Linked DNA regions of Homo sapiens: regions 1, 2, 4 and 5 are each linked to region 3. Evidence: fine-mapped expression QTL. A gene starts in region 3. Each other region holds a variant in brackets. All regions are shown on one strand. Distances are between the middles of the regions.

Region 1 (5,000 bases), 74 kb after region 3:
GCTACCATTTCAGCCATTTCATTTATTTGCAAATGGAAAGGGATTGTGGCCAGAATATATAACTGAAAAAGTTCCAGATGCGTATAAAAGTGGCCCAGAGGTAGCTTACTTAAAGCCTCGTTGTACTGTGAAATCTATCTTTCAAAACTCTAAATACCATCTCTATTTTCAAATGATGCCTGAGGGGCTTATGAATCTACAGTCTTTATCACCTTAGAGGTTGAAACTCTCCGAATGTCTGGATCTAGCATCTGCACTGAAATAAAAAGATGCTTCAGAGCAGCTGGAGGAAATATAAATCAAGACAAAGCAAGCACTCCTGAAGCTTCAGTACAAATACCCCTTGACCTGACTGCCCAGCCAGAGCGATCAAAAGTAATGTGTAACAACTGAACAAGGCCACTCTATGCTCCAGTGAACCAAGGCAAATACTGAGGAAATCCCTCAAATGAAAATTGTCTGGGACCAGGGCACAGATGTCATTTAAATTTAACTGTTTACAAGCATCTAAAAGTAGAGGATCATCCAACCATTATATTTAAAAAAATTAATAGTCTTTTTTATATTTTTGAGTTTAACTAGCAGGTAGCAATTTAAAATACCACACAGTTTGCATTATTAATGTAACTGCTGAAATGACACACTGAATAGATGAAGTAAATACTTGCTTTGTTATTGACATATTATCTGTCTGGACTTTTGGTTTTAGAAGAGGATAAGAAAGTTAGGAACTACCAAACCTAAGCAGGTGCAGGGATGATTATAACTTGCATGAGATGGTAATGCTGTATTATTATCCCACCTAAATATGAAGAAGTTTATAAAATTGATACAGGAGATAGAAATAAATTATTTAGACAGATAGTAAGGGCAACAGAGACCTCGGCGGAATTTCTGTTTTAACAAAAAGCAGCCCCCAAATCATTTCTTTTCTAACAAAGAGCAGTCTGAAAAATCAAGCTGTAGACATAGATAAGCAAGTTGGAAGCTTTCACGGTGAATGCTGGCAGCTGTGCCAGTAGAAAAGGGCTACCTGGAAGCCAGGTATGTTCAACATGAAGGCTCCATCTTCCCTTTCCTTTTTCACCCGAGTACAGTACAGAGAAGCAGGCAACATGGCGCCAGCCAGGTAGAGAACCAACTTGCATAATAAAAAATTAGAGTGGGGTGGCCAGCTTTTTCACATGCTATGCAAATGGCACATCTAGCCTTAACCAGTTTTTTGAGCCTTATGCAAATGGAAGACCTGGTCTGACCAATCTTTCATGCCCTATGTAAATTAGACACTACCTCCTCTTATTCAGCTGTAAAACCCATTGCATTTCACCACAGACCAGAAGACCTGCTTGGGACCCCTCTCTCTGCAGGAGAGAGCATTTCTCTTTCTTTCTCCTATTAAACCTCTGCTCTTAACCTCACTCCTTATGTGACCGCATCCTTGATTTCCTTGGCGTTGAGACAATGAACCTTGGGCGTTACTCCCAGACGAACAGTGCCATTTCAAAATCTTAGCCATAATGCTCCTTTAAAGATTACATGTAATGCTATATGGCACAGTGATTCAAAAAGAATACCAGAGGTTGATATAAAGCATGTTTAAATTTTTTTTTGAAAATAAAAATGATAGGAACAGTAAGACAGTCTGGAGCAGAAGCTGAAGTGGAGTATAGTCTCTTTTTCTTACTTATTATGAATATGTACGAGTTTTATAAAACATAGTGTAACACTGAATGCGTGATTTCTAAAAACATCTAAAATGGAGAACAACTCTCCAGTATTAATTAATTAATTCATTCATTCAACAAGTACTTATTTGTTATCTACATTTTAGCTACTGAGGAAAGAACAATGAATGTAAAAGACAAGGGCTCTGGGGTGTATAATTGGGAAGCTGTAGCTTAAAAGGAGAAACAGATGTTAAAAGATAATTATACAAATAAACATATACTCACTATCATGGAAGTCTTATTGTGGAAAAGCACAGGATCCCATAAGAACAATTAACAGCGATACCAAATAATAAATCAAGAGTGAGAGTGTCTATTAAGGCAACCCCAAAGTAGTAGCATTTATGGTAAGAACTGCTACAATTGAGAAATTGAGAGAAGCCCAATATGACCTTCAATTTCGCTAATCATTTTTTTCTGTTGTATACAATGTGATGTTAATTCATCTAATAAAAATTTTAATTCTATGATTTCCATTGTTCCACTTTTATAGTTTCAACTATCTTCTGAAACTCCCCATTTCTTTATACACTATATCAATTTTTCCTACTGACTTTCTCTTAAACTTTTTATTTGGAAACTATTACAGATTCCCAGAAAGTTGTGAAGATAGCACAGAGGGGCCCCATGTACCCCTCACCCAGGTTCTCCAACTGATTACATCTTACATAACTATGATATAATATCAAAGTCAGGAAAGTGACATTGACATAAAGTGTGTATAGTTCTGTGTAATTTTATTGCATATGTAGATTCATGTAACAAGCATTCCAATTAAGTTACAGAACTATTCCATTACTGCAATGATCTCCCTCACACTAGTTCTTTATAATCAGTCATACCCATCCCACATC[C/T]TTCCTCACTATCACTGACTCCCGGCAACCACTAATCTGTTCTCCATCTCTATAATTTTGTTATTTCAAGAGTATTATATCAATGGAATAATACAGTATTATAACCTTTTAATACTGTTTTTTTTCACTCAACCTAATGCCCTTGAGAGACATCCAAGTTTTTGCATGTATCAACAGTTCATTTCTTTTTTACTGGAATAGTACTCCATAGTGTGTATATACCACAGTTTGTTTAACCATTCATCTATTGTAGGATATTTTGGCTGTTTCCAGTTTTGGGCTATTTCTTATGAACTTTAAAATACACTAATTATAGTTATTTATACTAATTATCTTTTAGGCCAATATTTGAGACTTTTACTGCTCTGTTTCTGTTGACAAATGTTTTTCTCTTGATGATGGTCACATCTTCCTGTTTCTTCTTATGTCTAGTAATTTTTTACTATATATTGGATATTTTGAATGATGCACCATAGAGACTCTAAATTCTGCTATCTTCCCCAAAGAATGTTGAGTTTGGTTTGGTAGGCAGTTATATGACTAACATATCATCCAGAATATGTGGAGACTTGGTTTTATGTGTCATTAGGGTGAGCCTATTTTAGATTTTCCCTTAACCCAAGGGGAATCCCTTATTCTTGTGACTTATCTTTACCCTTAAGGTATAAGCCTCTTGAGATTTTTATGGAAAACCTAATGTGCTTACCACCCCCACACTCCCCAACAGGCTGGATTCAAACTCCAAACTCTGACTTTTATATAGTGGACAGTAACTAAAATCTCTGTTCATTTTTCTTTCCCCCAGCTTCTAGCTATTTTTTCTTTCTGTGCTCCTTGGTATTTGTACATTTGTACATTTGTAGCTCAGGGATCAAGCTGGGGAAGTTTACACTCAGGTGTCGAGTTTCTGTTGTGGCTCACTTCTAAAATTTCCAGGAACTCTGGAACAATCAAACTCCATGATCTGACTCTTCAGGTCAATACAACTTCAGTTTCTGCTGAAGTTTTGCTGCCCCACATCCCTCAGTCTGGGACATGGCTTCAGGGGAAAAGCTGCATAAACATGGATTTCACACAGTGTGGTTCCTTCCTTTTGAAAGTTGATTCTCTTTTAGTTTTTGCTTGTTTTGTTACTCTCCCATGTCTTAAAGCAGATTTCTAAAAATGTGCTCACAGTTTATTATTTCTATCAATAGGAGGATTACTCTGATACAAAGTACTCTGCCCTGTTTTAATATGATTTGTTTTTGAATTTTGTCAGAATTATGTCTATTTTTCTGTGGAAATCATTTGTGGAGTTCGTAGTCTAACTTTCCATGGATAAAAACATATTTTAAAAAAATCTCCTTTAAGCATTGTCTTCTGACAGTTGAGGAATTTCTTTATTCGTTCTCCTTTAATTCAAAATTTAAAAAGTCAATTTACCAGGAATAAAAGTTTACTGATTCGAGAGACAATGAATTCTTACCACATTTAAGCCCAATGTTACTCAAACAGCCTGTTTATGAAATAAAGGTCAGTCAAATGGGAACATTTTACTTATTTATTAGCCAGTCATGAAGTCCTCTGCAGGACTTATACATCTAGATCTGACATGACATAGGCTTTCCTCCTGCCTTTATTCAATCTTTATCATCTTAAAAAATTTCTCTGATATCCTAGTGTGGAATCAAAAGCTGAAAGTGTTTGCTTAAAGTTTGTTTTGTAGTCTTTTTATTTTATCTGAATAAATTGATTCCAGTTTGCCTGATGTTTCATTTTGATATGGACAGGAGACAGGAAAATACTGGAAAGAAGGGGGTAGTTCCCCGGCAAAGGCCCCACCCTCAAGCATGGAACCCCACAGCTCTAAATGGGAACAGGCATTTCTGTTTTAGTGTCAAATATTGCCTTTTGGCCCACCATGCCCCCCATACTGTACCCATATAAACCCCGAATCCTGGGCTCCATGAGCAGAAGAGCAGAGGAGCAGAGGAGCAGAAGAGTGGCATAATAGAGAAGGAGAGAAGAGAAGGAGTGTCTGAATGTCGAGAGAAGTTTGGCTGGAGATGGTCGGAGAGATGGCCGCGGGATGGCCAAACTCCTGGGGAAGATTATCTTCCCACTCCAGCCTCTTTCCAGCTCCCCATTCATCTCACTGAGAGCCACCTCCATCCAGCAATAAGATCCTCCACATTTACCATCCTTCAACTTGTCCATGTGACCTGATTCTTCCTGGACTCCAGACAAGAACCTGGGTACCAAAAAGGCACTGAGCTGGTTAACACTTAAGCTGTCTGCAGATGGCAGAGCTAAAGGAGCACTGTAACACACCTACTGGGGCTTCGGGAGTCGCAGGCACCCAACTCTAGATGCTACCATGGGGCCAGAGCCCAAAAGTGCTTGCCCCGGCTCCCACACCTGCCCGTCTGCATGCTCC
Region 2 (5,136 bases), 37 kb after region 3:
CTTTGTCAGAGATAAACAAGAACAAATACTCTAAACTTATGTGAACAGTTTTGAGTTTATGAATTCTAGAAACTAAAATCAAGAATACAGAAAAATGAAAATAACATTTTACTTCTGCGCTTCTATGTTTGGGAAACATTGCTCTGATAAAAAATAGCTGTCATTATGCAGTGTGTATATTCAAATATGAGATAAGACTATGTACACATCCACTTTTGTTAATAAACTCAATATTGAATACTTTGGGATGTTAAATTCATTGGAAAAACAAACCATTTGTAACCTCAGTTAACTTTAACAACAAGCATTCTGAGCAAATGAAAAGTGTCTTGTTTTATTTTTATATATTGCTTTATTTTAAATGACTCCAAATAACTCAGTAGTTATACGTAATTATACGTAACTCAATAATACATAATTAATAGGTGCTTGCTATTTGCAAGCCATATGGCTTATTAGAGCATCAGACTATTCTTTGAGGCATCCGGAGCAATTATTACTATTCTCATCATACAGATGAGGATAGGCTTAGAGTGTTTTCTGAGTGTGATCTAAACAGTGCTACTCAAAATGTGTCTGCAGAGAAGTGCTTGTCTGTGAACTGTTTGTTACAGGTCAGTGATTCAATAAGGAGCTTGGGCCAGAAAGTGTATCAGTATACTGCTGTCTTCATCGAGAAATTTTGGTTTTAAAAAAATTATCAGCTGAAGGAAATAGTGTGCTTAGTGTGGTAGTTAATTTATCTTCTTGTGCAAGTTATTTGTTATGATGGGCCAGTGATGGTTTGTAGAACAGCACTTCGAGTAGCACTCATTGTGAAGTCTCTTCTAAATTTCAGCTTTCCATGCAGTATCTCCTTTACAAGAAAAACGTCTTGCTATAGTTAGTCTCTCTCTCACCACTTGGTAACACTCCATTAGCACATTCAGCAGCTTTATCGAAATTGAATCAGTATACTAAATACTGTGCATACTAAAGTGTGCAATGTGATATTTTGACATATACATATTTACATCCATGAAAGCATCACCACAAATTAGGATAATGAACATTTGATCACTCCTGAAGCTTTCCTCTTGGTCCTCTATAGTCCCTGTCCCTTCCATTTCCCACAAGTAACCACTGATCTGCTTCCTGTCACTATAGATGGTTGCATTTTTGGAAGTTTAGTATAAAGGAATCATATAGTGTGTAATTTTTTTTTAATCTGGCTTCTTTCAGCATTATTTTGCGTTTCATCCATGTTGCATGTATCCGTAGTTCATTTCTTTTTATTGTTCAGAAGTATTATGTTGTAGAGTTCTGCCACAATTTATTCACCTATTGATGGATATTTTGGTTGGTTCAAGTTTTAGGCATTAGAATACACAGAATGCTGCGAACTTTCTTGCATACATCTTTGAACGAACATATGCTTTTTTTTGAGCAAGTACTTTAGAATGAAATGGCTGGATGATATGGTAGGTTTATTTTTTCAAGATACTACCGAAATTAAAAAAAAATTTTATTTGAATAATTTTTGAGGGTACAGGTGGTTTTTGGTTGCACGGAGAAGTTATTTAGCGGTGATTTCTGAGATTTTAGTGCACCCATCACCCGAGCAGTATACTGTACCCTAAATGTAATCTTTTATCCTTCATGCCCCTCCCAGCCTTCCTCCCCAAGTCCACCATGTCCATTATATTACTCTTACGCCTTTGTATCCTCATAGCTTAGGTTTTCCATTCCCGAGTTACTTCGCTTAGAATAATGACTGTCAAGCTTTTTCAAAGTGATTTTAACATTTTGCATTTCCATTGCAGTCTATGAGAGTTCCAGCTCCATCTTGCCAACACTTGGCATTGCCAGTCTTTTTAATTTCAGTTATTTTAATATGTATTGTCTCACAGTGGTTTTAGCAATATTTAACAAATTTCCCTAATGACCAATGATGTTAAGCATCTTTTCATGTGCATATTTGCCATGTATACATCTTCAGTGAAGTGTCTGCTCAGATCTGTTGCCCATTTTTCAATTGGATTTTTTGTTTTCCTAGTATTGAGGTTTGAGAGCTCTTTTGACTTATTCTGAATACAAATCCTTTATTAGATAGATACTTTGCAGATACTTTCTTCTAATCTGTGGCTTATCTTTTTTCCCCCATGTAAATTGACCCTATATTGTTTTAGAACAGTTTTAGATAAACCAAACTTTAAGAGATAGTACAGAGTTTCTATATTATTAACATTTTACATTAGTACAGTGCATTTGTTATAATTAGTGAACTAATATTGACACAATGTTAAGTAAATTCTAGAGTCTATTCAAACAGAAAATTTCTAAGTTTTTCCCTAGTGTCCTTTTCCTGCCCCAGGATTCTATCCTAGATGCCGTATTACATTTAGTTGGCATGTTTTTGATGACCTTGACAGTGTTGAAGAGTGTGGGCGAAATACTTTGTGGGATGTCTCTCTCTGTTGGAATTTGTCTGATGTTTTCTTCATGATTAGACTTGGGTTATGGGTGTTGGGAAGGAAGATCACAGAGATAAAATGCCATTTTCATCACATCAAATCAAGGGTACATACTACTAACGTGATTTATGGCTTGATATTAATCTTGATACCTGGCTGAGGTACAGGTTTCTTCACTGTGAACTGACTCTTCATTTTCTCCTTTTCTTACTGTACTTAAGGAAATCACCATAGTTCAGCCCATACTTAAGGAGTGGGAAGGTGTGCTCTCCTTTTTGAGGCTGGAATATCTACATAAGTCGTGGAATTTTGTACCCATTTGTTTCTTTTCCACTATTGAGATTTCTACTTATTATCAGTATGGACTCATTTTATACTTTGGGTTATAATTCAGTACTGCTTTGTTACTCAAACTGTTCTAATGGCTTGGCCATTAGGAGCTCTTTCACTTGGCTCCTGTGTCCCTTTGACATATCCCCATCAATGAGGTTGGACTTTTTATTTTTTTCAGGGCGGGGGGTGCATCTTCTTTTTCTTTTTCATCTTGGAAAGTATTTTCTTACTCTCTGGCAGTGCAAAATGCCCCAGGCTCATCTTGTGTATTTCCTGTCCAATCCTAGAATCAGTTATTTCTCCAAGGAACTCTTGGTTCCTTTTATTGAAGAATGGTGTTAGAAAC[A/C]GAGCTAGGTATACTCATTGCTACTGAGGTGTTATTTCTTTTAGGCCCTTTTGGTGCTGACAGAACTAAGAAATATGTATGTGTATACCAACCTGGGTATATACTCATATCTATATTTATATTATCATACATATCTATATTAAGCTAAACAAGCTCATATTGATGTCTCCAACTCTAATCCATTACATGGATTATTCTAGCCTCCTATCCTTCCCTATCTACAAATTTCAGTTCCAACAATGAGAAAGGAGTTAATCCATTTTGAGCAGGTTTCTGTGTGTGATGTCAGATAAGGGTTAGGTTCATTATTTTATGTGTGGACACTCAGTTTTCACAACCCTGCCTGTTGAAACTATCCTTTCCCCAGTGTGTATTCTTGGCACCCTTGTTGAAGATCAGTTGACTATATTCATGTGGATGTACTTCTGGGTGCTCTATTGTATTTCATTAGTCTACATGCCTGTTTTTATGTTACTGCTTTGCTGTTTTTGATTTTTGTAGCTTTTTTCATACATTTGTAGGCCCCTGTCAGAAAGTACGAGGCCTCCAGCTTTGTTCATTCTCAGGATTTTGTGTGTGTGTGTGTGTGTGTGTGTGTGTGTGTGTCTACTAGGGGTCTTTGTGGTTCCTTTGAATTTTGGGGTTTGGGGATTGCTTTTTCCTATTTCTGTAAAAAATGCCATTGGGATTTTATAGGGATTGCATTGAATCTGTAGATTGCTTTGAGTCATGTGGATATTTCAAAAATATTGAATCTTTAATTCATGACCAGTGCTGTCTTTTATTTGTGTCTTCTTTAATTTCTTTTAGCAATGTTTTGTAGTTTTCAGTGTACAAGTTTTCTGCCTCCTTGGTTAAGTTTATTTCTAAATATTTCATTCTTTTTGATGCTATTGTAAATGGGATTTTCTTAATTTCTTTTTTGCCTTGTTCATTTTTAGTATATAGAAATGCAACTGATTTATGTATGCTGAATCTGTATTCTGCATCTTTACTGAATTCTTTTATTGGTTCTGACAGCTTTTTTAAATAAGGTTTTCTACACATAAGATTGCATCGTTAATGAACAAAGATAATTTTAGTTCTTTCTTTCTGATTTGGATGCCTTTGACTTCTTTTTATTGCCTAATTGCTCTAGCTAGGTCTTTCAGTACTGTATCGCATAGAAGTGGCAAGGGTAGACATCTTTGTCTTCCTGGTGTTAGAGAAAAAGCTTTCAGTTTTTCACTAAGTATGATGTTAGCTGTGGGCTTTCATATGTGGCCTTTATTATATTTATATAATTTTCTCTATTTCTAATGGTTGAAAGTGTTTTTTATCATGAAAAGGTGTTAATTTTTGTCAAATGCTTTTTCTGCATCTATTGAATTCATTATGTGATTTTTATCCTTTCTGTTTATGTGATTGATTGATTTTCATATGTTGAACCATCTTTGCATCCCAGGGATAAATTTCACTTGATCATCGCGTATGATTTTTTTTAATGTGTTGTTGAATTTGGCTTGCTATTGTTTTGTTGAGGATATTTGTACCTATGTTTGTTAGAGATATCGGCGTGTGGTCTTTTTTGTTAATATCTTTGTCTGGATTTAGCATCAGGATCATGGTGACCTCATACAATGAATTTGAAAGTGTTCCCTCTTCAGTTTTTTGGAAGAGTTTGAGGAGGATTGATTTTAATTCTTCTTTAAATGTTTGGTAGAATTTTTCAGTGGAACCCTCTGGTCCTTGACTTTTCTGTGTTGGGAGATTTTTGATTACTGATTCAATCTCCTTGCTAGTTGTAAGTCTTCATATATTCTATTTTCTCATGATTCAGTCATCGTAGGTTGTGTGTTTCTAGGAATTTATCTATTTCTCTTAGGTTATCTAAGTTGTTAGCCTATAATGGTTCATAGCAGTCTCTTGTAATCCTTCTTATTTCTGTGGCATCAGAAGTAGTATCCTCTGTTTCATTTCTGATTTTTTAATTGTGAATTTTCTTTTGTTCTTAGTCTAGCTAAA
Region 3 (5,136 bases):
AATACTTTTGATTAAATGAATTTTATATATTTATTTCAAAATTATATTTTACACATAAGATAATATATTAAATTTCACTTTTTTACAGAATACATTGCAAGTATATTTCCAAGTCATTAAATTTTTAAAAAACTTTTGTAACTGAGTTTTATCAATATAGATACATAAACTACACTAATTTATTTAAATATTTTGTTATTGGGGCTTTGTTTCCATTTTTTGTATTACAGATAAGATGGTAATAAACATTTATAAATCTTCATATGCGATTCATATTATTTCCTTAGGCTATATTTTTAGACCCAAGATCACTTAGTCAAAGGCTATGAACATTCACAGGTTTTGTTTTGTTTTTGTAGAGATGGGAGCAAAATGGGACCATGCAGATACTTGAACCCTTGAGCTTAAGGGATCTTTCTGCCTCAGCCTCCCAAAGTGCTAGGATTACAAGCATGAGCCACTGTGCCTGGCCCAACATTCACAGGTTTTAATACATAATACCACGTAATTGCCTCAAATAGTTGTATTGATATACCTTTTATTGAGTAGCATTAAAAAAATTCCATTAAGGCCACAACTCTTTTACAAAACTAGCATCACTGTTAGTCCTTATTCTGCAAAGCGATAAAAAAGTATTGTTTCTATGGCTAAAATGATTTCTGAAATGAAATAAATTTATCTAAGAAAATATCGAAGGAATAACTGACGAGGAATAGTGATAGCATCCAGCACACATATATTTATTCCTAGAGTTGATAAATCAATTCTCCTTTTCTTCAAGCACTATTAAATTTATATTTATCAGTGCATTGTTCTGTGAGAATTCTCAGACAATCTTACTTGTAGCATTTTCTTTGATTCTTCTTCATTAGAAGAACTACTTCCAACTATATCAGACAATAAAGAAAACATGTAATGAAGGCTTGAATATGTGTACATTTTTTTAACCCTTAATTTAAAAAGTCAATTATAGGAAGTACATTTGTCTGACAGGTGAGTCACCTCTGTTCTATTATAAATTATAATCATATTTGAGCATTTCCCTTCGTTTTACTGACAATAGCAAAATAAATGAGATTCTATTTTTTTTTTTTTTTTTTTGGGGGACGGAGTTTTGCTCTTGTTGCCCAGGCTGGAGTGCAATGGCCCGATCTCGACTCACAGCAACCTCCGCCTCCCGGGCTCAAGCGATTCTCCTGCCTCAGCCTCCCGAGTAGCTGGGATTACAGGCATGCACCACCACGCCCAGCCAATTTTGTATTTTTAGTAGAGACGGGTTTCGCCATGTTGGTCAGGCTGGTCTCGAACTCCTGACCTCAGGTGATCCGCCTGCCTCGGCCTCCCAAAGTGTTGGGATTACAGGCATGAGCCACTGCGCCCGGCCCTATTCAATTCTATTTAGTCACTAAGTATGAAAAGTATTCAGGTTTTGCTAAGCCAGGGTCAAACACTCCCCACATCCTAGTTTAGAGTGCTTAGATTTTCCCTCTTTTTCATGCAATTTAATGAATGTTAAATTAGCATGAAAATTAAATGTTATTTTTAAACTCCCTAAAACTTTAAAATGTTGCTAAGTTATTTTTCCAAATGTATAAAATGACCTCATTTTAATAAAAATAAACTATCTCAATGTAGGTATATGATACGTATTTGTAGTGAGAATAGAAAACAGTCCAGAAGAAGCAGTTATTACTTTTTGAGGTGGATCGGAGTGGGAGGTTCTTGCTGCGGGCACTGAACAAACTACTCCGTTGCAATGATTTTTGCTCTTCACAAGTCAGCAAGGGTTTTCGATGATGCTATTCTTCACAGAAATGTGACCTACATGATTTAAAGGCTGATACAAGTAAATATTGGTGGATGAGGAGCCCCTGTCCTTGTTGATGCATCTCTCAAGGTTGATTTTGAGTTAGAGGTTTGCTCTGTCCATACAGACTTGTTTTTCTCCCTGCTTAGAACCAGCATGAAAAGAACGCAAGAAGAAACTTTGGTCTTATTCAGATCACATTTTAAAAACCTGAGCTAGCATGATAAGAGCAGTTAAAACATATTCTTTCTAAAGGCACAGGGTCCCAGACACCAAAATAACCATCCATTCCCTAACCAACTGATGTCTCTCTGCTGTACGTGGTAAATTAAAACTACATGTTTTACAACGTAAAATAAAGGGTGCCCCGAATAACAACTAGGTTCTTTAAAGTTAGTGTTTTGGGGGAAGCATGGGGGCTTCTTTGTAGCACTCCTTTGAAAACTATTTCCGAGAAAGCTCCAATACAAACACCTTTTTCTTCCTAAGGAATCAACCTTAGGGAATCAACCTTAAGGAATCAATCTGCTGGGCTAAATCTTCAACACCTTCCCTTTTCATCACCTTTGAGGCAGATAACCAAAATTTCTTTAAACTGCTTATTTCACAACGGGATGACAAAGGAGTGTGTGTGTGTGTGAATGCGTGTGTGTGCGTGCCCGTGTATGCCCGCGTGTACAAAGGTGTGTGAGAATGCGTGTATGTACGTGCCCGTGTGCGCCCGCGTGTGCAGTTTACCTTTTTACAAAATCCAGCATTTAAAATAGATTTTTAAATTCCCCTTTAACAAATGATTGAAAATGGTGTAATCATTTTATCTTTTGTTGTTTTTTTTTTTTAGTTCAGTAACAGCCCAGAACTGTAGTTTTGAGCCATGTCATCAAATCTAAACACGACTAGGGAAGTGGAGCGGGGAGAAACAGGAGAGAGAAACAGAAAGGAAAAGCGGGTGGGCGGTGAAGCAGAAGGCTGGGACAGTCAGAGGGATTCGCCGTCTCACTCTTACCAATTCCTCCCTCGGCACACATCACAGCATGTTGGTCACGAGTCGCAAGGTACAAGAAAAGAGCTAAGCACAAATTCGAAGAGTGAAAGCGGGTTGTGCTTCCACGCCAGCCATTTGCCTTCCGGGAAAAAAAAAAAATCACTTAGACATCTCCCAAACTCAGCTGCGGGAGCCAGCGCCGGAGCCTGTGCTGAGCTCGCAACCTACTTCTCCCTCCGCTCCTCCTCCCGTCTCCGCCAGGCTGCAGAGCAGCCCGAGCTGCAGTGCACCGCCAATCGCCCACCGCCCCGCCCTCCGTGACGTAGCAGCGGCAGGGCCTGGCAACTGACCGGCTCCCAGCTCCAGCTGTTTGACCGAGCTGCCCTTCTGCCCAGCGCAGATGCCCCAGTGACCCAGAGCCCTTACAATCTCACCTCTGACTTTCACCTCCCAAGTACAGGTTGCTCGCGGTTGACGGTTTGGTTCATTGTTTTGCTGCAATTCTAACAATTCACTGTTTTAGCTAAACGTGGAACACTGGACAATTATTTTTTGGAGGGTAAAAGAGATCAAATCTAAAAATGTCGCGCCACTGCATTCCAGCCTGGGCGACAGAGTGAGACCCTACCACAAAATAAATAAATAATATGTAATGTTACTGTTTTTATGACTAGAAAAGAAATGAGGAAAAATATTACAATTCTGATTTGGTCGTTTTCCTCACACCTTGCCCTTCCGTTCCCTTACTCAGGATAATGTGGCTTTGTCCATACACCTGCCAAGGTCCGTTTGCTTAAAATTCACAACTTTTTTTAAAACTTCTAAATAAGTTTCAACAACCTGTCTGGTTTCTCAAAATGTCTAATTTGGAAAGAGGAAAAGCCATTTAGTGAAGGCCGAACCAATAACTCAGAACAAAACCTAATAATCTTGGCTGCCTGTTTTATCCCATTGAAACAAATATAAAAAGTGGGGCCAAACTCTCCACAGCTCTCCTATATTGTGCCTCTCTCTTCCATTCTCTCAAGTGTTTCTCAGATGTGCAACAAGAGTGAAGAAAACTAAATGAGCATGCAAATGTTTGACTATTAGTAAAGAGCTCACCAGTACAGACACAGGGAGCTGGTTGGTCGGCTTGAAAATTCTCTCAGACCAAGAGAAGCCAAACAAGTTTCTGCACCCACTGAGAACGTGCTTCTGCCAGACGAGGAGAAACAAGTTCTGGGTGTGGCTTCCTATGATGCTCCATTAGGGAAGCCTCCATCTGCAGGTAAGGACAAATCTCTAGAACTTAGTCAAACTTAATCCCCAGAATTAACCCAGCCTAGTAGAATACACTGTCATTTACATGGCCTCTGAAATTCCTGGCCCTAGTAGCACTTTTTGCAGTCATATGACTGTCTCTAACATCCTTTAAGATGAAACACATTTCCTATCTGAGAGTCAACCTTATAGAGGAGACTTAAAACTGTAGCTGGGCCCCCCTGAGCTCTCCCAATCAAACACTGGTGTTGTTACCTCAGCAGAGGGCCTTCCTGGGAACGTACATACCAGGACAATTCAGGCATGTAGCCTGTTTGGATTGCTTAAATCAGTGGTTCTAACTAGCTACACATCAGAGTGAACCGGGGAGCTTGATGCCAAGGCCCCACCCAGGCCAATTAAACCAGAATCTCTGGGGGTGGCGCTATGGCAATGTCTTTTTTTCAAGCTCCTCTAGAAATTCTAATGTGCACAAGGGTTGAGAATCACTGACTAAGATTTGAATTATTGTCTTAGAAGAAAATCTATTATATTTAAGTCTAAAGAGCATAGTAGTAGAATAATGGAAAACATTATGTAATACAACTTAGCCTTATACATATTCTTTATATATTGGTTTATTTTAATATAAATATAAAAACGTGAAGATACACCTCAAAATTGTTTACTCAGGGAAGGATAGTGAGGGGAGATTACTAGCTTTCTATTTGTGTCTGTCATTTGAATGAAATTTGTATCATTTTGATAATTTAAATATTTCTAATCAAATTTTTAAAAATCAATACTCATAAATACCATGAAGGTCATTGGAATAACCACTATTAAGGTGGGTTTCTATCAATTTATTAGGTTTTGTTGTGTTTGGTGTTTTCTTTTTGCAATGCTTCTGTAATATCCAATTTTCTCCTCAGAGTGATTCCTATTTTGAAAAAGACAAAATACGATTCTTAATTTAAGACATTAGCTACTTTAAATCTATATAGTAATTTTTAATTTAAAAGATACTTACTTTCTTGTAATTTCAGAAAGGTTTTCTTTTTTGCACTTCTCAGGAAGTTTTTTAAAAAACCAATATTTCAAC
Region 4 (5,136 bases), 77 kb before region 3:
TAAGTCTGACTGCTGAAGAAGAATGGGAGGAAGTTTTTCAAGAAAAATAAACAATGTGCACAAATCTTGGAGGGGATCACTATACTGGAAGGCTTCTGAGAAAAATAAAACCCTTATTTATCTGATTAAACATTGGTGTTAGAGATTAGCGGGAGGCAAAAATAGAAAAAACTGGGCTGAGTCTAAGCCTCCTAAATTTCCTTCTTTTTTAAAAAATGACATTTTCCTCTTCCCTTAAACAGTTCTTCAAACTTATGATATTCTCGGGAGCACTACCTAGGAATTACCACAAGAGGGCACGATTTCCCTGAGTCTATTTTTAGAATTGCCATAAAATATTTAATAATTTATTCACCTGATTTCAATAAAAACTATCACTTTTTCTTATCTTAAAAGGGAGGTAGATTCCTGTACCAGGACTTGATATATTTTCTCATTTTGGGCTAAGTCCTGTCAGATCCCTGGTAATCCAGTGTGGAGGGGGGAAAGCAAATAAAAAAAAAAAACTTTCTTCTAATGCCTTTATTCAGCAATGATTCCTCTGAATCATTATAATTTTCCATCAGGCCTTTAGAAGAATAGACATCCTTCCAAGCACAAGGTAGGTTTCTGGATAGAAAAAATTATCAAGAAGCTAATGGTTGCTGGCCAGGGCACAGTGGCTCACCCCGTAATCCCAGCACTTTGGGAGGCCAAAGCTGGCGGATCACTTGAGGTCAAGAGTTCAAGATCAGCCTGGCCAACAAGGTGAAACCCCGTCTCTACTAAAAATACAAAAATTAGCCAGGCGTGGTGGCAGATGCCTGTAATCCCAGCTACTTGAGAGGCTGAAGCAGAATTGCTTGAATCTGGGAGGTGGAGGTTGCAGTGAGCCAAGATATTGCACCACTGCACTCCAGCCTGGGTGACAGAGCAAGATTCCGTCTCAAAAAAACCAAAACAAACAAACAAACAACAAAAAAAGCTAACGGTTGCTGTTTTGTTTTTTTTTTAATCCTTGCATACATCAAATCTCAAATGTTCCAATGCCTTTGAAAATACAGAAGAACAGATTTAATCTCAATATACGCACTTTACTTTGGGTATTGAGGATAAAAAGCTTGTCATCTGGCTCCAGTAGTTTGCATGCATAAGCTATGTTGACAGCTGTCTCCTGCTTGTCCCCTGTCAGCATCCAGATCTTGATGCCCGCTTTGTGAAGAGCTTCTATAGATTCAGGGACTCCCTCCTGCAGACGGTCTTCAATGCCAGTAGCACCTAAAAAATAACCAAAGTGCAATAGGACTTGTAAGAAACCAAAGCCAGCTGAAGCTCAGCTAGTCTACAGTTGAATCATATCTGTTAGCCAACTCAACCCTACACTACATAAACTGCCCAGCTGCTCAGGAGAGTCAAAGGAGGTTTGACGACCCAGACCAAAATTATATGCAATGTAATATTTTGGGAAGGAAGCCTCAGGGATCAATGGATTTATCAAACTTACTCGTTCTCCTTTTGGCTAGATTTCTTATCTGTAAATTGAAGGGATTTGAGTCAATTATTTATGCAACCTTACACTACAATTTTATAATTCTATGATATTCCCAAGGATAAGGGTGGGATTTTATTTTTATTATTATAGACTTAGGGGGCACAAACGCAGTTTTGTTACACTGATATATTGTGTAGGGGTGAAATCTGGGCTCTCAGTGTAACCATCATGCAAATAGTGTAAATTGTACCTGTTAGGTAATTTCTCATCCCTTGCTCCCCGACCTATCCTCCCACTTTTCTGAGTCTCCAATGTCTACTATTTCATTTTCCATGTCCATGTGTACATGTTATTTAGCTCTCACTTATAAGTGAGAACGTGTGGTACTTGACTTTCTGTTTCTGGGTTATTTCACTTAAGATAATGGCATCCAGTTTCATCCATGTTGCTGCAAAAGACACAATTTCATTCTTTTTTATGGCTGAGTGGGATTCCATTGTGTATATATGTGTGTGTGTGTGTATATATATATATTATATCACATTTTCTTTAATCGTTTGTTGGTGGACACTTAGAAATCTGATTCTGTGACTTTGCTATTGTGAACAGTGCTGTGATAAGCCTATGATTGCAGGTACTTTTTTGATATAATGATTTCTTTTCCTTTGGGTAGATACCCAGTAGTGGGATTGTTGGATTGAACGGTAATTCCATTTTCAGTTCTTTGAGAATCTCCACACTGTTTTCCATAGAGGTTGTACTAATTTACATTCCAACCAGCAGTATATAAGCGTTCCCTTTTCTCTGCATCCTTGCCAACATCTGTTGTCTTCTGACGTTTTAACAGACATTCTGACTGGTGTAAGATGGTATCTCATTGTGGTTTTAATTTGCATTTGTCTGCATCTGATAACTAGTGATGTTGAGCATTTTTTCATGTTTGTTGGCCACTTGTTGTTGTCTTCTTTAGAAAAATGTCTGTTCATGTCCTTTAAAGGGCAGGCTTTTAAAGAAT[G/A]CTCCTGCCAGTAAGATACAATGTCTATTTGCAGTGTTCTTTCATGGGTCTACAGTTCCCTTTTCTGAAACAATTGGGGCCATATGTGTTTTGGAATTCAAACATTTTTCAGATATTAAAAAAGTAATATGGTGCATATACCATATTCTATAATACTTGTTAATCAAGCATATTAATATTTCTGCAGGAAAACTGACAAATGTTCACCTAAATTAGGATAATAACTATAAATAGTCTTATATCAAATCAGGTATGATTTTTCTGCCAAATGAGTTTTGGCACTAAACCCATGGAGCATTTTTGATTTTGGAATCACAGATGAGGAAATGTGGACCTATACTACTTACACTGTCACAGAGAAATCACTTAGGGTAGGCATCATTGCTCTATTTGCTAGATACTAAGTTAGGTCAATGTTTTCCTCCTAAATAGAGGAATGGAGCTCAGAAGCTGGTATCTTGGTATATCAGAGCTTATATTAGAATCTAGATCTCCAGACTCTAAGACAGTGGTTCTCAAACTTGACCGCCTTTAGCATCACTTTAGGGAGCTTTAAAAAATTCCAATGCCCAAGCCACACAACAGATCACTTGAATCAGAATCTCAGGGGATAGGATGCAGGCATCAATATTTTTTAAAGTGCTTCAGATAATTCTAAGATGCAGTTTAATCCAAGACAAGAGGGGTCAGTTGTGCAATTTTAGTTGAAATCAGGAAGAGAAGAAAAATAAATTTCCTTAGTCCAGTAGCAGGTGCAGGATAAAAAGCTTGGAGCCAGGCAAACATGAGCTCCATGTTTGGTTAATGAGTAACTGTCAGCTACTGGCATGTGACCTTGAACAAGTCATTGAACTGCTCTGTGCCCCAAATTTCCTCTACATAAGATAGAGATTTGTTGTGAGAATTCAAAAAAAAGATAACACGTATTAAGCACCTTATCCAATGCCTGACAAGAAACTCTATTCTTGATATTTATCTTGATTTGAACCAAGATATTTATTGGAACATTTACTTGGCTTTGTAGTCTATGTTAAGTGTTGGATTTTACATGATCTTCTTGGGGTGACCATCCTGACCCCATCACAAGTGAAGTCTAGTTCACTGCAGTGGACAACAGAATAGAATGGATTGGAAGTTGGATAGAGATCAGACTGGACAGGGTAGGCAGAACCATATATGTTTATTAGATAACAATGGAAGAAAATAACCCTTATTCAAAGATATCCAGTGTTTTTCAAAATCCTCCATTCAGGCAATACAAACATAATTCACCTACCAAGTAATGTAAGTTTGTTCTCCAACCTCATGGCAGATTCAAGTAGTAATTCTTCCCTGTTGTCAATGCTGGTTTCAGCTAAAAAATGATTCCTCAGCCACTCTGCATATTCAGTGTCACTCATGACCTACGGGAAGAATTAAAAGAGAGGTATGAAGCAAGCCATATGATCTTGTGGGAATACCAGGACTGACCTCTGGCAAAATATCAAACCATCAACTTGTTTTACATATTCCTCCCTCTGGGCACAGCCATGTCAGATCCATATCCTCACACCACCTGGACACTAGCTTCCCAAACTCTGTGGTCAGACTAGTGCAACACTGATGATGGATGACCCTTTAACTCAGCATCTCTGGAAATTCTAGGCACCATATATGATGACAGTGGGTTAATGTCTTTAATTAAATCAGAAAGTATGCAGTTGGGAGTGGTCTCCAATTGACAGTTAAATCCAGTTTGATTCTAATGGTGCAGTTGAGAAAGTGGTATCAGGACTGTTTAGTTCGAAGGATTCTGTAACCAGCAGCACCTTTCATACCTTTTGATGTTTTTTTTGTTTGTTTGTTTTGTTTTGTTTTTGTTTTTGAGACAGAGTCTCGCTCTGGCCCAGGCTGGAGTGCAGTGGCCTGATCTCGGCTCACTACAAGCTCCGCCTCCCAGGTTCACGCCATTCTCCTTTGATGGTTATTTTATGTGGTTAATGAATGGTAAAAAGAGAAGGGCCCTATGGGTGAAACAAGTCTTATTCCAAAGAAAAATTGAATGAAATTCCTGGGGAAGTGATCAATAATATATTTTCCTTTGTCTTTAGGTTGCCATAGAAAGAGAAATCTACATTTCAGTTTTTATAAAGCAGAGTGGAGTAAAGCAGGTGAGGCAATTCCCCTCTCTGCCTACTTATTCTTGGCCACAGGTCATTCGATTTGAGAGAATCTGACACCTGTTGGGCTACATTTTAATCAAGGGTAGGATCATTCAATTGAAAAGGCAGAGTTGGTTTGATCTTGAACTCTCCATTCTTCCTTTAACTGTGTGTGGGGCAGGCTTTTTGTTTTTGGTTTTGTTTTTGTTTTGAGATGGAGTTTTGCTCTGTCGTCCAGGCTGGAGTGCAGTGGCGCAATCTCAGTTCACTGCAACCTCTGCCTCCCAGGTTCAAGCAATTCTCCTGTCTCAGCCTCCTGAGTAGCTGGGATTACAGGCATGCACCACCAGATCCGGCTAATTTTTGTGTTTTTAGTAGAGACGGGGTTTCACCATGTTAGCCAGGCTGATCTTGAACTCCTGACCTCAGGTGATCCACCTGCCTCAGCCTCCTGATTACAGGCGTGAGCTACTGTGCCCAGCCATCAGACTTTTGATTCCTTATGCAGC
Region 5 (5,136 bases), 57 kb before region 3:
TAAGCCCCATGTCCCACTTAGAGAGGCCTTGCCTGACCCTCCAGTTCAAAGTGGCCATCCAATCATTTTATATTATACCACCTTATTTTAATTTTCTACCAAGTACTTATCGCTAATTTTTTTCTTGATTTAAAAAAGTAATATATTTGTGAATATTTTCTCTAATAGAAACTCTATGAGAGCAGGGGCCTTATGTGAATTGTTCAGCATTGTATCCAGTGTCTGGAATATAGACCATCGATAAATAGGTGCTTGTTGGATTGCCAGTCTTCTCTATTTAGCTATAGGATAAAGTATGGCTTTGGGTAAGTTATTCTATGAAGTGAAGAATGTTTGCACATTCTATTTTTTTGTAATAGTTTTTGTCTGTATTCTTTAAGGACAAGGAGAGGCTAAGGGTCTATGTGGTGATCCTAGGTTCCAGTACCAACTTTTTCAAAGACTAAGTGGCTTTCAGCAAAATCACTTGCTGTTTCTGGGCCTTTGTTTTCAGAATGAAACATTTCAGAATGAACGATTTGGATTCGGTGACTTTAAGATCTTTCCCAGCTCTGCAAGTCTCATCATATAATCTGCCTAAACAACACGGAATGTTTCCCAGTATGACCTTCCAGCTTCAAAAACTGGTTTACATATTGTGTCCCAGAGATTCTGATCTCCTCCATTTTCATCTATGCCTTTGCTTGAAATATTCATTTGCGTCCTTTCTATTTACATAAATACTGAACATCTTTAGAAGTTTAGTTCAAATGCCAGCTCCTCCACAAAGACCTCTGTAGCTATACTGACTCTTACTCATACCACTCATTGGGAATTTATAGATTACATGTGCAGAATGTACCAGGCATTTGCTTATGTACCAGGCACTTGCCTCATTTAATCATTATATCTCAGCAGATGCTATTAATACCAGCATTTTACAAATAAATAAACTTAAGTAATTTGCCCCATCTCACAAAAATGGTACAAATTAGTCTTAAAATCAGTTCTATTAAACTCCACAGCCCCATGCTTTACTGTTTCTGAATCTACCTATATATGTTAACAGGGCCAATTTTTAACACATGGCCAATATCCCCTGCTTAATTTCAATGAGTCCATGTTTTTTCATTTAAATAAAAATTTATTAAATGAATAATAAATGAATGAATCAATAGACATGTCAATGAAATATCCCTAGTATTAAGGGAAAGTTGTGGGGTAGGAAGTTAATATTTTTTGAGATCCTCCTTTTTTCATGCATATATATATGTGTGTGTGTGTGTGTACATAATATATATGTATACCTATTTCCTTTTTATCTTCAAAATAATGCCATCAGGTAGAAACTATCACTGCCCACTCTGCAGCTGAGGAGATTAAGACCCAGAGAGATTAAGCAGTTCAACCATGATTAAACAGCTAGTTGTGGGTGGAGCTGGAAATTCGATTTAGGTCTTCTGCCTCCAAAGCCAGCACACTACCCACTATATTATAGCTCCTCAGCAGTGATTTGTATATAATAAGTTGGCTCAGTGGTTCTCCACATGGGGTGAATTTGTCCCCTGGGGGTTTGGCAATGGCTGTAGATACTTTTGCTTGTTATAACTGGGTGAAGTGTGCTGCTGGCATTCAGTGGGTGGAGGCCAAGGATACTTCTAAACATCTTACAATGCTCAGGACAGCCCCCAACAACAAAGATTAATCTAGCCCAAATAGTGCTGAGACTGATAAATCCTTGAGTAGCTCAAGGAATTTATTGATGACGTAACACCATTTAAAAAATATTTTAAAAATACAGAAGTTTCCCCTTTTTCACAGGGGATATGTTCCAAGACCCCCAGTGGATGTCTGAAACCACGGATAGTATTGAACCCTAAATATACTATGTTTATTCATATACATACATACCTATGATAAATGTTAACTTATAAATTAGGCATAGTAAAAGATTAACAACAATAACTAATAATAAAATAGAATAATTATAACAATATACTGTAGTAAAACTTA[T/C]GTGAATGTGATCTCTCTTTTTCTCTCTCAAAATATCTTATTTTACTATACCAAAGGTAATTGAAACTGTGGAAAGTAAAACCACAGATAAGGGGGTAATACTGTACTTCAAAACACATATAAACATGGAGGCTATATTTAATGATCGTGTAACTCCTAGCCATCATTAGGGAAATCAGTCGTCATGCAACTATATAATTAGTATAGTTCCAGGTAGCTCAGCTATTACTGTAGGGAAAACTTGTTCAGTCAGTACAATTGCAAAAGTGGAATCAAGAAGATATGAAGTGACTCAACCTTTAATCATTTTGTGGAAGCTATGAAAAGGAAATAGGCCAGGCCCGGTGGCTCAGGCCTGCAATCCCAGCACTTTGGGAGGCCGAGGTGGGTGGATCACCTGAGGTCAGGAGTTTGAGACCAGCCTGGCCAACATGGCGAAACCCCATCTCTACTAAAAATACACAAAATTAGCTGGGTGTGGTGGCGGGCACCTGTAATCCCAGCTACTAGGGAGGCTGAGGCAGGAGAGCTGCTTAAACCCAAGGGGCAGGGGTTGCAGTGAGCCAAGATCGCACCACTTCACTGCAACCTGGCGAGACTAGACTCCTTCTCAAAAAAGGAAATAGACCAGTAAAGTTACAATGTGATTCAGAAAACAAAGCTACTGGAGCTATAATTCCAGGCTCAGTGAGAATTTTATAAAAATTAGGTGTGAAGCCAGGTGTGGTGGCTTACACCTGTAGTCCCAGCACTTTGGGAGGCCGAGGCTGGCAGATAGCTTGAGCCCAGGAGTTCGAGACCAGCCTGGGAAACATGGCGAAATCCTGCCTCTACAAAAAATACAAAAATTAGCCATGCGTGGTGGCATGTGCCCATAGTCCCAACTACTTGTGAGGCTAAGGTGGTAGGATCACTTGAGCCCAGAGGGTTGAGGCTGCAGTGAGCTGAGATCATGCCACTGCACTCCAGCCTGGGTAACAGAGTGAGACCCTGTGTTAAAAAAATATATTGTATGAGAAACAAAGGTTTATTATAATATTGATAAAACTTATCCAAATCGTTATGACTTTTAATATTTCTTAGTATTTCTTTAATATTTCTTAATACTTACCTTAAGGTAGACTCCAAAATAGTTACATGAATGCCTCAAAGCAGGGCAGGAATTCTTACTTTTTGCTTCATAAGAAAAAACTTACAAAGTCTATTCTTTCCTTTGTCTGAAGGTAGATATTGAGATAGGTACCAAATTGTCTACTTTATTTCTCTTCATTATTTAATCCCCGATCTGTCTTTTCTTCCCATTCCCCTCTTCAAATACCCAGTAATCTTCCTATAGCCTGTTACTTGCATCAATTTGATATATGGAAGAAGTGGGCATGAGTCTACAGAACAAAAAGTTTATCATACTTTCAATGTGCTCTCCAAAGGGCCCGAAACAAAGGTGAACAGCATTCAGATGAGCTTCCTTCAATTGTATCATCAATCCTCCATCAACCCTTTCACTATGAACTAAATCTGCAAACATTTCCAGCATTCCAACTTTTGCCTGCTTGTAAATAACACACTCAGCTAAACCTCCTCCAACTGTATCACCCATATATCCTTGATATATAAACCTTTGTTCTAAACAAATTCCCCATACAATTCCAGCATCGTAAGAACATCCAGTATCTTGGCTTCAACATCCCAAGCCTTAATCAGTGCAAAATCCACCTCCAATACTGACTGCCTGAAAATCAAAACAAAATGGAACAAGAACACTGACTTTATATCTTATGACAATGAACATGATAATTTATGTTTACATATCTGCCTCCCACATCGGACCATGAGCTCCTTAAGAGATAGGCCTATTTCTTATTTTAACAATATTTACAACAACAACAACAGTAACAACAGCTATATTTATAGAGAACTCATTTTGTGCCATTTGCTGTTCTAAATTCTTTATGTGAATTATCTTCTCTCATTCTCTTAACCATCCAATGAGATAGATAGTGTCATTGATCCTTTTTATTGAGGCACAGAGAAATTAGATAGTTGTTAAGGGCCACACAGCTTGTAGGTAGTGGAAATGGGATGCAGACTCAGGAGGCCTGATTCCAAAATCCTTGTTCTTGAAAAGTGTTCAATGCTACTGCCTCCATGTAAATCAGATTCACAAATTGTGCATCATAAATGTATACTCTGGACAAGCCCAAATTGATGGACATTCTACAAAATCCCAGAATAATGCCACTCAAAACTGCTAAGTTTATCAAAAGGAAAGAAAATCTGAGAAACTGTCACCTAGAGAAACCAAAATGATGGCTGTTATGCAGCATCCTAGCTAGGATCCTGGGACAGAGAAAGAACATTAGGTAAAAATGAAGGAAGTCCAAATAAAATATGGGTTTCAATTAATAATAATGTATCAGCATTTGTTCATTACTTATCTCAAATATATCATATGACTAATGCAAGATGATAACAGCAGGGGAAACGGCATGAGGGCATGCTGGAACCCTCCAGGATATTTTTGTAACTTTTCTGTAAATCTAAAATTATCCTAAATTTAAAAGTTTATTTTTAAGAAAGTCATTCTCTTTAAAGTCTTTTAAAGGAGTGGCTTGTTAAAATTTTAATATGCATATTAATCACCTGGGGATATTATTAAAATGCATTTAATTGAAGCTCTGAAGAGGGGTCTGAGTTTCTGCAATTTAAAAGCATGCCCGGGTGTTGCTGATGCTGCCAGTACATGGAACACATTTCGAAGCTAGAAGGTTTTAAAATATACAATGGTGTTGTCAGGTGTGTTTAGTGCAATTCCATGTGTGAGAGGTTGTTTCCAAGCAGCAATATTCTTCACCAAATTGTCTCCTAGGCAACACTTTTGCAGAAAACCCTAAAGGACTAGCCATTAAAACACAGATACACTGTTAAAATAGTTTTCACTTCAGTGAAAATATGCCTCAGAATTAATTTCTAGAGAGAACTGGTCTCCACTAGTTTGTGTGTGTGTGTATACACATGTGTTTAATTTTAAACCACTGCATAAAAAAGACCAGAAGCTCTAGGTGTGTCTATGGTAGAGAAGTGGTCAAAGGCAAAGTTAGTACCTCTAGAACTTTGGTTCCCAAACAGGTAGCTTATCAATTACAG

What was found.
Region 1: its variant is fine-mapped to the expression of ATP10D in whole blood (INTERVAL, PIP above 0.99). The same link has a PIP of 0.9 or more in neutrophils.
Region 2: its variant is fine-mapped to the expression of ATP10D in whole blood (TOPMed, PIP above 0.99).
Region 4: its variant is fine-mapped to the expression of ATP10D in whole blood (TOPMed, PIP 0.95).
Region 5: its variant is fine-mapped to the expression of ATP10D in lung (TOPMed, PIP above 0.99). The same link has a PIP of 0.9 or more in blood mononuclear cells, fibroblasts, monocytes, nasal epithelium and whole blood.

What each region holds. Positions count from the first base shown.
Region 1 is chr4:47,409,087-47,414,086 of GRCh38, reverse strand. All of the region lies in intron 8 of GABRB1 (gamma-aminobutyric acid type A receptor subunit beta1), which reads right to left. Among named protein-coding and RNA genes, the nearest start is that of COMMD8, 52 kb to the left of the region's middle. The variant C/T (reference allele first, on the strand shown) is at 2,582.
Region 2 is chr4:47,445,975-47,451,110 of GRCh38, reverse strand. COMMD8 (COMM domain containing 8) reads left to right here. Exons shown (of 5, transcript NM_017845.5): 5 at 1-324. Among named protein-coding and RNA genes, the nearest start is that of COMMD8, 15 kb to the left of the region's middle. The variant A/C (reference allele first, on the strand shown) is at 3,133.
Region 3 is chr4:47,483,197-47,488,332 of GRCh38, reverse strand. ATP10D (ATPase phospholipid transporting 10D (putative)) reads right to left here and starts at 3,058. Exons shown (of 23, transcript NM_020453.4): 1 at 2,814-3,058. RefSeq lists enhancers at 2,886-2,955, 2,927-3,221.
Region 4 is chr4:47,559,702-47,564,837 of GRCh38, reverse strand. ATP10D (ATPase phospholipid transporting 10D (putative)) reads right to left here. Exons shown (of 23, transcript NM_020453.4): 14 at 3,763-3,889; 15 at 1,073-1,257. Among named protein-coding and RNA genes, the nearest start is that of ATP10D, 77 kb to the right of the region's middle. The variant G/A (reference allele first, on the strand shown) is at 2,487.
Region 5 is chr4:47,539,968-47,545,103 of GRCh38, reverse strand. The region is part of intron 9 of ATP10D (ATPase phospholipid transporting 10D (putative)); the gene reads right to left. Among named protein-coding and RNA genes, the nearest start is that of ATP10D, 57 kb to the right of the region's middle. The variant T/C (reference allele first, on the strand shown) is at 1,993.